Linked DNA regions of Homo sapiens. The protein of the gene in region 1 purifies or fractionates together with the protein of each later gene. This does not show direct contact. Each region holds a gene or a part of one and is shown on either strand. Other genes may lie near its edges. The genes, in order: SPDYC and RBFOX3.

Region 1 (4,310 bases):
GGAGGCTTTGGGAAGACTGGGGAGAGGAAAGAGTGAGGCTCAGAGAAGAAACCTGCCAAGCTCACACGGGAGGGGCAGCACGTCGACCCCAGGCCCATGGCCCTCTCTCTCATATTGTTGGTCCTCACTCCTGCCTCCCAAGCTCCCACACCAGCCCCCAGCTCCTGTCCCATCCTGCACTCACTGCGGAGGGAGTAGGTGCCTGGTTCCAGTTGCATCTGGGGAGGCAAGACGATGAGAAAGTCCCCACCCCAGGCGTTTTTGACCCTTGAGAGATAATTTTGGGAGGGAGGGCGATGACATTCAGAGGTCAGAGAAGGGCACTTGGATGACACAGGCTTAAGCAAGTGGCTGCTGCAGTGCTGGGGCAAACCACAGGGGGAACAGTGGGGCGGCGAGAGGCCAGGGCCCCGGGGAAGGCGAACAGGGACCTGTGGACAGACCCTCTGAACCCCACCATGGTGGGGGCGCCGGTCCCGAGTCCAAGCCCAGTGGAATGGCTCCTTTGCCATGACCTGGGAGGAGCAGAGTGGACAGTAAATGGGGTGGGAACCCCAGCCTTCCCCACACCCCAGGTTGCCTCCCAGCCTCACCTCCTCACAGCACTGGCGGCTCACAACAGCCCGGAAACCCATCCGTGCCCAAAGCTTATCCCTCTGGTGCAGGAATTTCCCCACTCGTAAACACCAATCTTTTCCCAGGGCCCATGGAAAAATCTCACATTTGGGGCCCTCCAGGTCCTCCTCCATGTCGTTTGCAAGGTACCTAGCCACAGAGGCACAAGGTCAGGGAGCAGAGGCCACACATCTGCCCTGTCCCATCTGACACCTCCAGCAAATGCCTCCACTGCCTGCCCCCACCACTCACAGGGCCAAGAACAGGCTGCTGTGGGTATACTCGCTGAGCTTCAGGTGGGCGCGCTGGAAGTAGACCAGCACCATGGCCAGGAGATACTGCAGAGACAGATCGGGGTGGGGGGTTAGTTATTCTCTGAGGAGGAGGGGCTTGCACCCAGGTTCATTTGCACCCAGGGAGGTTTTGCTGCAGGGAAAGAAAGTCAGTAAAATGGTGGGAAGTGGTGTGCAAAGATGAGGGGGTAAGGATGGAAGGTGAGTGGCTCTCCCTACCAGACCAGGGCACTCAATTCCCACCAACTCAACCTGACCCTCAAGAGACCCCCAGCCTGTACTCCCTCACCTTATCTGAAATCTGGAAGCAGGGGTCTTTGGAGAGGAATTCCTGGACAAAACTGTCCTCTGAGGGTAGAGAAGACATGACAGGACGCAGGTTACCACCACCTCCATGGAGAAGAGTGGCATCAGAAGCTCCAAAGCCCAAGCCACCACTGAACCCTCTCTCTCTTTCTCTTTTTCTCCCTTTTTCTCTTTCTCTCTCTCTTTCTTAATATAAATAGAAATGGAGTCTCACTATGTTGACCAGGCTGGTCTTGAACTCCTGGCCTGAAGTGATACTCCCATTTCAGCCTCCCAAAATGTTGGGATTATAGGTATGACTCACGGTGCCTGGCCCTGAATCCAGTTTCTGAGAGGACACCCCTCCCACCTGCCTAAGCTGGGATACCTGAGAGGGAGAGGGTCAGAGGTCTCAGATGTCTGTACAGGCAGGTGAGACCCCACACTTCACATCTGCTTTCACACTTGACCTCACGGCCCCTCCCGTGCCAGCCCTCCAAACTCACCCAGAAGGCTGAGGAAGGCCTGGACCTCCTGGTGCTGGCGAAAACGGAGGAACCCATTGCCCCCACCTTGCCGGCTGCAGCCCCCCAGCTCTACCTGGGTGGTAACTACAGGGGAAGTGGTGGGGTCTTGGGAGTCACTCATCTCATAGGAGATGGAGATGGGGCAGGGTGACCTGTAGAGAAAGGAGGCTCAGGACTTAGCATGTACCCCCGTGATGCTCACAAATCAAGAGGGTGGTGACAGGGGCCAGGACGGTGGAGGGGTGGGTGCAGAGACTTGGGGGCTCAGAACAGAAGGCAGCCGGGATGCAACAAGAGTGGGGAGGCCAGAAAAGAAGCAAAGAGTTGCTATAGGTGAGGGTGTGGCACCCTCACCCTCCTCCTGGCACCCCAGGACAGGCCAGAGTAACAGCAGCAACAAGCACCGCTGAGGGCTTCCTAAGTGCCTGGGGCTGTGCTTAAGGGCCTTATCTTATTCCATCCTGGTAAGGAGGTAAGTTTAACTCAGACCGGTCGTCAAACGAGGAAACTGAAGCTGAGGCCTAACAGCCGGTTAAAAGTGAAGCCCTTGGTCTCCAAAACCCCAAGAGGTTTTTTGGTTTTTGTTTGTTTGTTTTGAGACACAGTCTCTCTCTGTCGCCCAGACTGGAGTGCAGTGGCGCGATCTCGGCTCACTGCAACCTCCGCCTCCCGGGTTCAACTGATTCTCCAGCCTGAGCCTCCCGAGTAGCTGGGATTACAGGCATGCGCCATGCCACCACGCCCGGCTAATTTTTTTTGTATTTTTTTGGTAGAGACAGGGTTTCACCGTGTTGGCCAGGCTGGTCTCACACTCCTGACCTCCCAAAGTGCTGGGATTGCAGGCGTGAGCCACTGCGCCTGGCCAAAAAAAAAGAAAAAAAAAACCCAAGAGTTTAACTGCTCCTCTAGGCCCCAACTCACAACCACCCCCGACCCCTCACCAAAGCAGAGTTGAAAGGGCCACTGATCCCTTACACCGAGGGGAAACTGAGGCCCTCAGGGAGGAATGAAATTAGAAAAATACCTGGATTTAGAGCAAGTTGATGGGGCCACTTCAAACATTTCAAGCTCCCGTCCTAAACCCACCCTCATCCCTGAGAGAGAGAAGCCAACCACGGGGCCGAGGAGAACGTGCGGTCGACCACCCCAGGGCCAATCTGGGCCCCTCCATCTAGGCGCCCGCAAGCAACCCAGCCTCCTCCTGCAGCGAGCCTTACCCGAGCTCAGGAATGGCCCAGAGCATAACACCAACGCCGCCGCGAGTGCGCTTATATAGCCTGAGGGCGGCCCTGCCCAAAGCAGCCCGTCCACCAATCAGGGCCTTCCTGGGGGGCGAGGCTTGGCCTTCACCGCCTGCCTCTCTGCCAGTGAGTCCAGTCGGCACCCAGCTGTGGCTCCCCAGGGTTTGAAAGCCTCTCCAAAGCTTCATCAACTACAAGAGGGGTGAAGGCAGGCCAGCTGGACCCCAGGGCCTAAGGCCCCATAGGACAGGCAGGGAGCTAGGATCCCTGTTCCCCTCTTGACAAATGCAGCGCCAAGGTGCTGAGCCGGGATATGAGACCCGGACTGCGAGGGCCTGGTGGGCGAGTTTTTTTTCATTGATTGTGCCTTGCTAGGGCAGGGTCTCTGGCTCTCTATGGGTGTCTCTGAATCTCCTGGCCTCCTTGAGTCTCTAGGTTTCACTGAGGCCCCCCGAGTCTCTCTTTTGTTTCTTATTTTATTTTTCCCCTCGTAACACAGAACAAGCTGCCTGGGTCTCAGTGGGCCTCTGAGTCTCTCAGTTTCTTGTTGCCTCTGGTGTCTGGATGTCTGTGGATCTCTGGGTCCTTTGTTTTCTCTCTGATCTCTGGTCTCTGGTGTATCTGCTGTTTCATGGTCTCCCCCAGGCCGCCTCCCAGGCTCCCTGAGGCCGTGAAGGCCTTTCTAGACCAGCTGGTCTGCATCAGGCCATCCTGTTTGTGTGTGTGCACGCATTTGAAGTCGGCCTCCCCTAGAAAGGAAGTAGTGAGTGGGGCAGCATCCATAGCCCGTTCACTAAACACCTACTGCTGCCTACTGAGGAGTCTGTGATGGAATCAGCTCACGTGTTCCTCACAGCAAGCCCGTGAAGTTGATGAGAATGATGAGAAGCCTCATTTTGTCAGCGAACAAACAACTAACACACAGAGTTTGGGTTGCTGACCGACAGGCTGAGTAACTTCCTGCCAGCCACTCAGCTGGTAAGTAGAGATAGAGTTCCAGCCTGGCTGCTGGGCCCACACGCTGGGTAGCCTGGCTGTGTGGTCTACAGCTGTTCCTGGACGCTGCCTGCACAGAGAAGGTGTTCCATGAAACCGAATGAATCTCCTAGACCAGCTGTGTTTTCAACTGTTCTCCTCCTCCCCCAGTAATTAAGGTTAGAGATCAGGAAGGTGTACCAAAAAGAAGCCTGGGAGTGGGCTAGTCACTTTAACTTTGGGAGGGCCTTCAGGCTGATTTCCTTCAGTGCCACCCCTGGAGATCTGACACCGATCTCCCACACTGGGGAGAATATTTGTTTTTACTTTTTTTTTTTTTTTTTTTGAGACGGAGTCTCGCTGTGTTGCCCAGG
Region 2 (3,801 bases), on another chromosome or scaffold:
CCTTTAGTGATGGAGGGCACCAGACCCCAGGGAATGGGAGCAGAGAGGGCTCAGAGAAGCCCCTCGCTGACCTCAAGAGTGGACAACGGCCCCATTAAAGCATCCAGACAAGGTTCTGGGGCTCTGAATGTCCCCCTAAATGCCAGTGACCTCCGCGATGCCCGCCGTGGTGGGGATAGGGGTGAAGATAATGGAGGCAGCTGCAGGGCTGAGTTCTGGGGCTCCCACGATCCTCCCCCCCCCCAGGTCTGGAAAGGCTGCCTAGCCCCTCGCACTGCGCAGGGCCTCCCCATTTCCCTCCTCCCCGCCGTCCTACCCCCTCCTCCACGCCTCCCCCGGCCCAGGTACTCACGCTCCGTAAGTCGGGATGGGGGGTGGGGGTGGCGCAGCCCGAAATGTATTATACACGGCCCGGCCCCGGCCCCGAAGATGTGCGCCCCGGTAGGCAACGGCTGTGCCGGTGGTGGGGTAGGGGAACCCCGTCACTGCAGGAAACGGGGCCCGAGACACGTGTGAGAGGCACAAGGGGACCCACCTGGCACCCCCTCCCCGTACACCTAGCCCCCCCGCGCACCTAGCCCCCAACCCCTCCCCAAGCCCCGCCCCCGGAGCGCTACTCAGTCAACACGGCGACGGGAGGGCGGGGACGGCCCACCTGGCCCCGCCCCTCATGCCCCGCCCCCAGAGCCCCCGGAGCCCCACGGGGCCAAGTAGCTGGTCTCATCCCATCCCCGCCCCGCCCCAGCTTTTACCTGCATAGAATTCAGGCCCGTAGACTGCGCCGACCACTGGATTTAGCTTCCAGCCTAAAACAAAGGCACAGAGACCTAGTCACTGCCTTCCCCGACCCTTTTCCCACCAAAACGTATGCCTGGGAACCCCAGCGACACCGGTGGAGCCCTTGGGAACATTCCCAGGGCGCCTCCCCGCGCCGGGCCCCCCTTTCCCACACTGCCCGGACAAGTGCTGAGTTCAAAACACCAGGGTCTACTCCTTCCTGACTCTTCTGCCTGGGGGTCTGCTAGGATTCTTTCCCAATTGTGATCCTCCTCAGCCTGCCCCTGAGCAACCCTCACCCCTGGGCGTCATCCCCCGAAGCCTGGGGTACCCACCTCCCAGAAGAGAACTGGAGAGGGAAAGTGGAACTTGTTATCTACCCCCCTGAGCACAGCTGGGATGAGGGTTTCTGGAGTCAGACTCAGCACAGCCCCACCATCCGAGCTCCAGGTGGCCAGAGGCTGCAGGAAAGGCGCTTGGACTCTGCCCATAAGCTCTCCCCACTGCCTGCCAAAGTCCCCGTCCTGCTCCCTCTTCCCCGTGCTGAGTCCTGCTCTCACTTTCCTCCCGTCCTCATCTTCCCCCAGAGCGGCTGTCCGGGAGGGTGGCCTGGGAGCAGGTCGAGGAGGAAAGGGCATTTGGACTGGGAATGATAATAAGGATGGGCTGGTTTTCCTCAACACTGTGTGTGAGCCACACAGACTGTTCGAAACTCACGGGGTCCTCCCTGCCCAGTGAGCCACCACACCCTCCCCATTTTGCAGATGAAGAAACAGCCCTGGAGAGGCACAGCAACCTCCCGTCAGCAGCTGGGGAGTGGCAGAGCCAGGGATCCCAGCCTGTAATCGGCATCCCAGCCTCTCCCTTCCTGCAGGTGGGCCAGTCTTCCTCTCCCCGGGGGAACCCAGGAGCAGAGCAAAGACCTGCTCCACCTGGAGGCCTCTGCGGGGGACACCAGCTGCCTTGCAGTGGGCTCCGGCTCCAGGCATTCCGACAGGTTGGGCAGGAGGGCTTCTTGACGAGGCCCAGCCCCTTACCCCTCCTCAGTGTACCCAGGTCTTATCTCTACAGCATGCCCCGTGGGCCCGGCTCCTTGTCCCTTTGCACTGGGTGGGGAGGAACAGCAGGGACGAGAGCCCACTGGCCAGCTGGGGAGATACATCTGGAGAGGGTGGCAGTGGGCCCAGGCCATGTGTGAACCCCTGACCCAGATTCTAACAACCCCACTGCAGGGCAGGCAGACTGGAGGCAGTGAGGACGGAGGGTCGGGGTATGTTCCTCCCTCTGGCCAAGTCTTCACCCCACCCCGCATCCCCGGCCCACCATCACACAACCTTGTGTCTGGACGCCATTGCTGGGACTTTGGAATCTTCCAAAAAGATAAATCCCAGGTTAGGAAGGAAGAAACTTTTTTTGGGGGTAGGGGGGCACAGTTTCTTGCTCTGTTGCCCAGGCTGGAGTGCAGTGGACGATCACGGCTCACTGCAGCCTCGACCTCCTGGGCTCAAGCGATCCTCCTACTTCAGCCTCCCGAGTAGCTTGGGCCACAGGTGCCTGCCACTACACCCACAGCTAATTTTAAAAACTATCTGTAGAGACAGGGTCTCCCTGTGTTGCTCAGGCTGGTCTTGAAGTCCTGGGCTCAAGGGATCCTGCCACCTTAGCCTCCCAAAGTGCTGGGATTACAGGCATGAGCCACTGCATCAGGCTGAAAGAAATGTTTTGTTTTCTGGGAAGACCTCCAGTCCGAAGAACTGACTCTTCTTACTAGAAGGCCCATGATGGAGCAGAGTCCTGGAGACCCTGACCCCAAGCCCAGACTCCCCGGGGCTCCATCCAGTGACTCTTCTGGGTCCACTCTGGGCGAGTGAGACTTGGAGGCTGCATGTGTGCTTCAGATGGCCCTGGGCACCTTCACCTGTCAATTCTGGCTTCCTGGATGCCTCCACCGGTGATTCTGGCTTCCTGGGTGCCCTCCCCTGTCAATTCTGCCTCTCTGGGAGCCTCCACCTGTCTCTGCTGCCTCCATTTCACTGTCTGGAACCCCAGATGGCAGAGACAGCCTGAGACTGCCTGGCTGGCCTGTTTCTACCGTAAATAGTTAACACCTGGGCAAACCTGGTGGGTTTGTTTTCTACAATGGAAACCTCCACCCCCAACTGATGAATTCCAGAGTGTTGGGTAGTGTTGAAGCCAAGTCACGCAGCACTCGCCACCAGAGCCCATGGGTTGGCTTCGGTGCCAACCTGCAGAGAACCCAGGGCCGTCCCACTGCAGCCCTCTGTGCCCAGGCTGATGAAGAGATTGAGATGAAACGGCTCTTGCTGCAAAGGTGGGCAAAGGTTCCCACCTCCCTCCATTCCCTGATGTTTCACTGGTGTAGGTTCCGTGCCCCTCATGAGCCGCATAGCCCGAGGCCATTCAGAGATGGGTCTGTTCTGATTTCCATGCTCCCCTGAATTCTCACTTCTGCCCAGACAGCGGTGGGTGTGGCCCTTGGGTGCAGAGTGGGCAGCTGGTTCCAGAGATTTTGCAGCCCCGCTGGTTGATCACCTGTACCCTATAAAAATGTCTACCGCTTTTACTTCCTGTGCCAAGTGCCAGATCACAGAAGAGTCACACCCAGGACGCACTCGGGATGCTTGCAAAGTGGGAACACTCCCAAATTTTTAAAAAGAATTTGAGATGTGTAAGTCCTCAGAAAAGCAGGATATGAGGCCATGAGAATCAAGTCTAACTTGGGCCAGGCCAGAGGCCCGGCCCCACCCCAGCATCGGACACCAGGAGAAGAGCTCGGGGGAGAGGTGGCGGATCGGGCGGTCCTGTCCAGGCTTCCATGCTGGTTGTCACCTGACTCCACGTATGGCCGATCACATGGGGGGCCATGAGAGGCTGGGGGTGACACCGTCTGAAAGTCCACGGCAACAGGGAGATCCATCCCGTCTAGGGGCAGCGCTGAGGCTTCTAAGGGGTCCGAGTGGGAAGCTGCTCCCTGGCAGGAATGAGCGGAGGCCCCCAACGTAC

Evidence for each region.
Region 2: the proteins of SPDYC (region 1) and RBFOX3 purify together in Homo sapiens (affinity purification with mass spectrometry; one large-scale study listed by BioGRID and IntAct). This does not show direct contact.

The regions. Positions count from the first base shown.
Region 1 is NC_000011.10:65,168,889-65,173,198, reverse strand, and holds the start of SPDYC (speedy protein C), read right to left. Parts: upstream 2,967-4,310; 5' UTR 2,938-2,966; intron 1,873-2,937; 5' UTR 1,842-1,872; coding exon 1,700-1,841; intron 1,257-1,699; coding exon 1,198-1,256; intron 954-1,197; coding exon 868-953; intron 766-867; coding exon 594-765; intron 516-593; coding exon 185-515; intron 17-184; coding exon 1-16. UniProt on the Homo sapiens protein: Promotes progression through the cell cycle via binding and activation of CDK1 and CDK2. Involved in the spindle-assembly checkpoint. Required for recruitment of MAD2L1, BUBR1 and BUB1 to kinetochores.
Region 2 is NC_000017.11:79,096,940-79,100,740, forward strand, and holds part of RBFOX3 (RNA binding protein fox-1 homolog 3), read right to left. Parts: intron 828-3,801; coding exon of another isoform or gene 807-827; coding exon 753-806; intron 486-752; coding exon 353-485; intron 1-352. UniProt on the Homo sapiens protein: Pre-mRNA alternative splicing regulator. Regulates alternative splicing of RBFOX2 to enhance the production of mRNA species that are targeted for nonsense-mediated decay (NMD).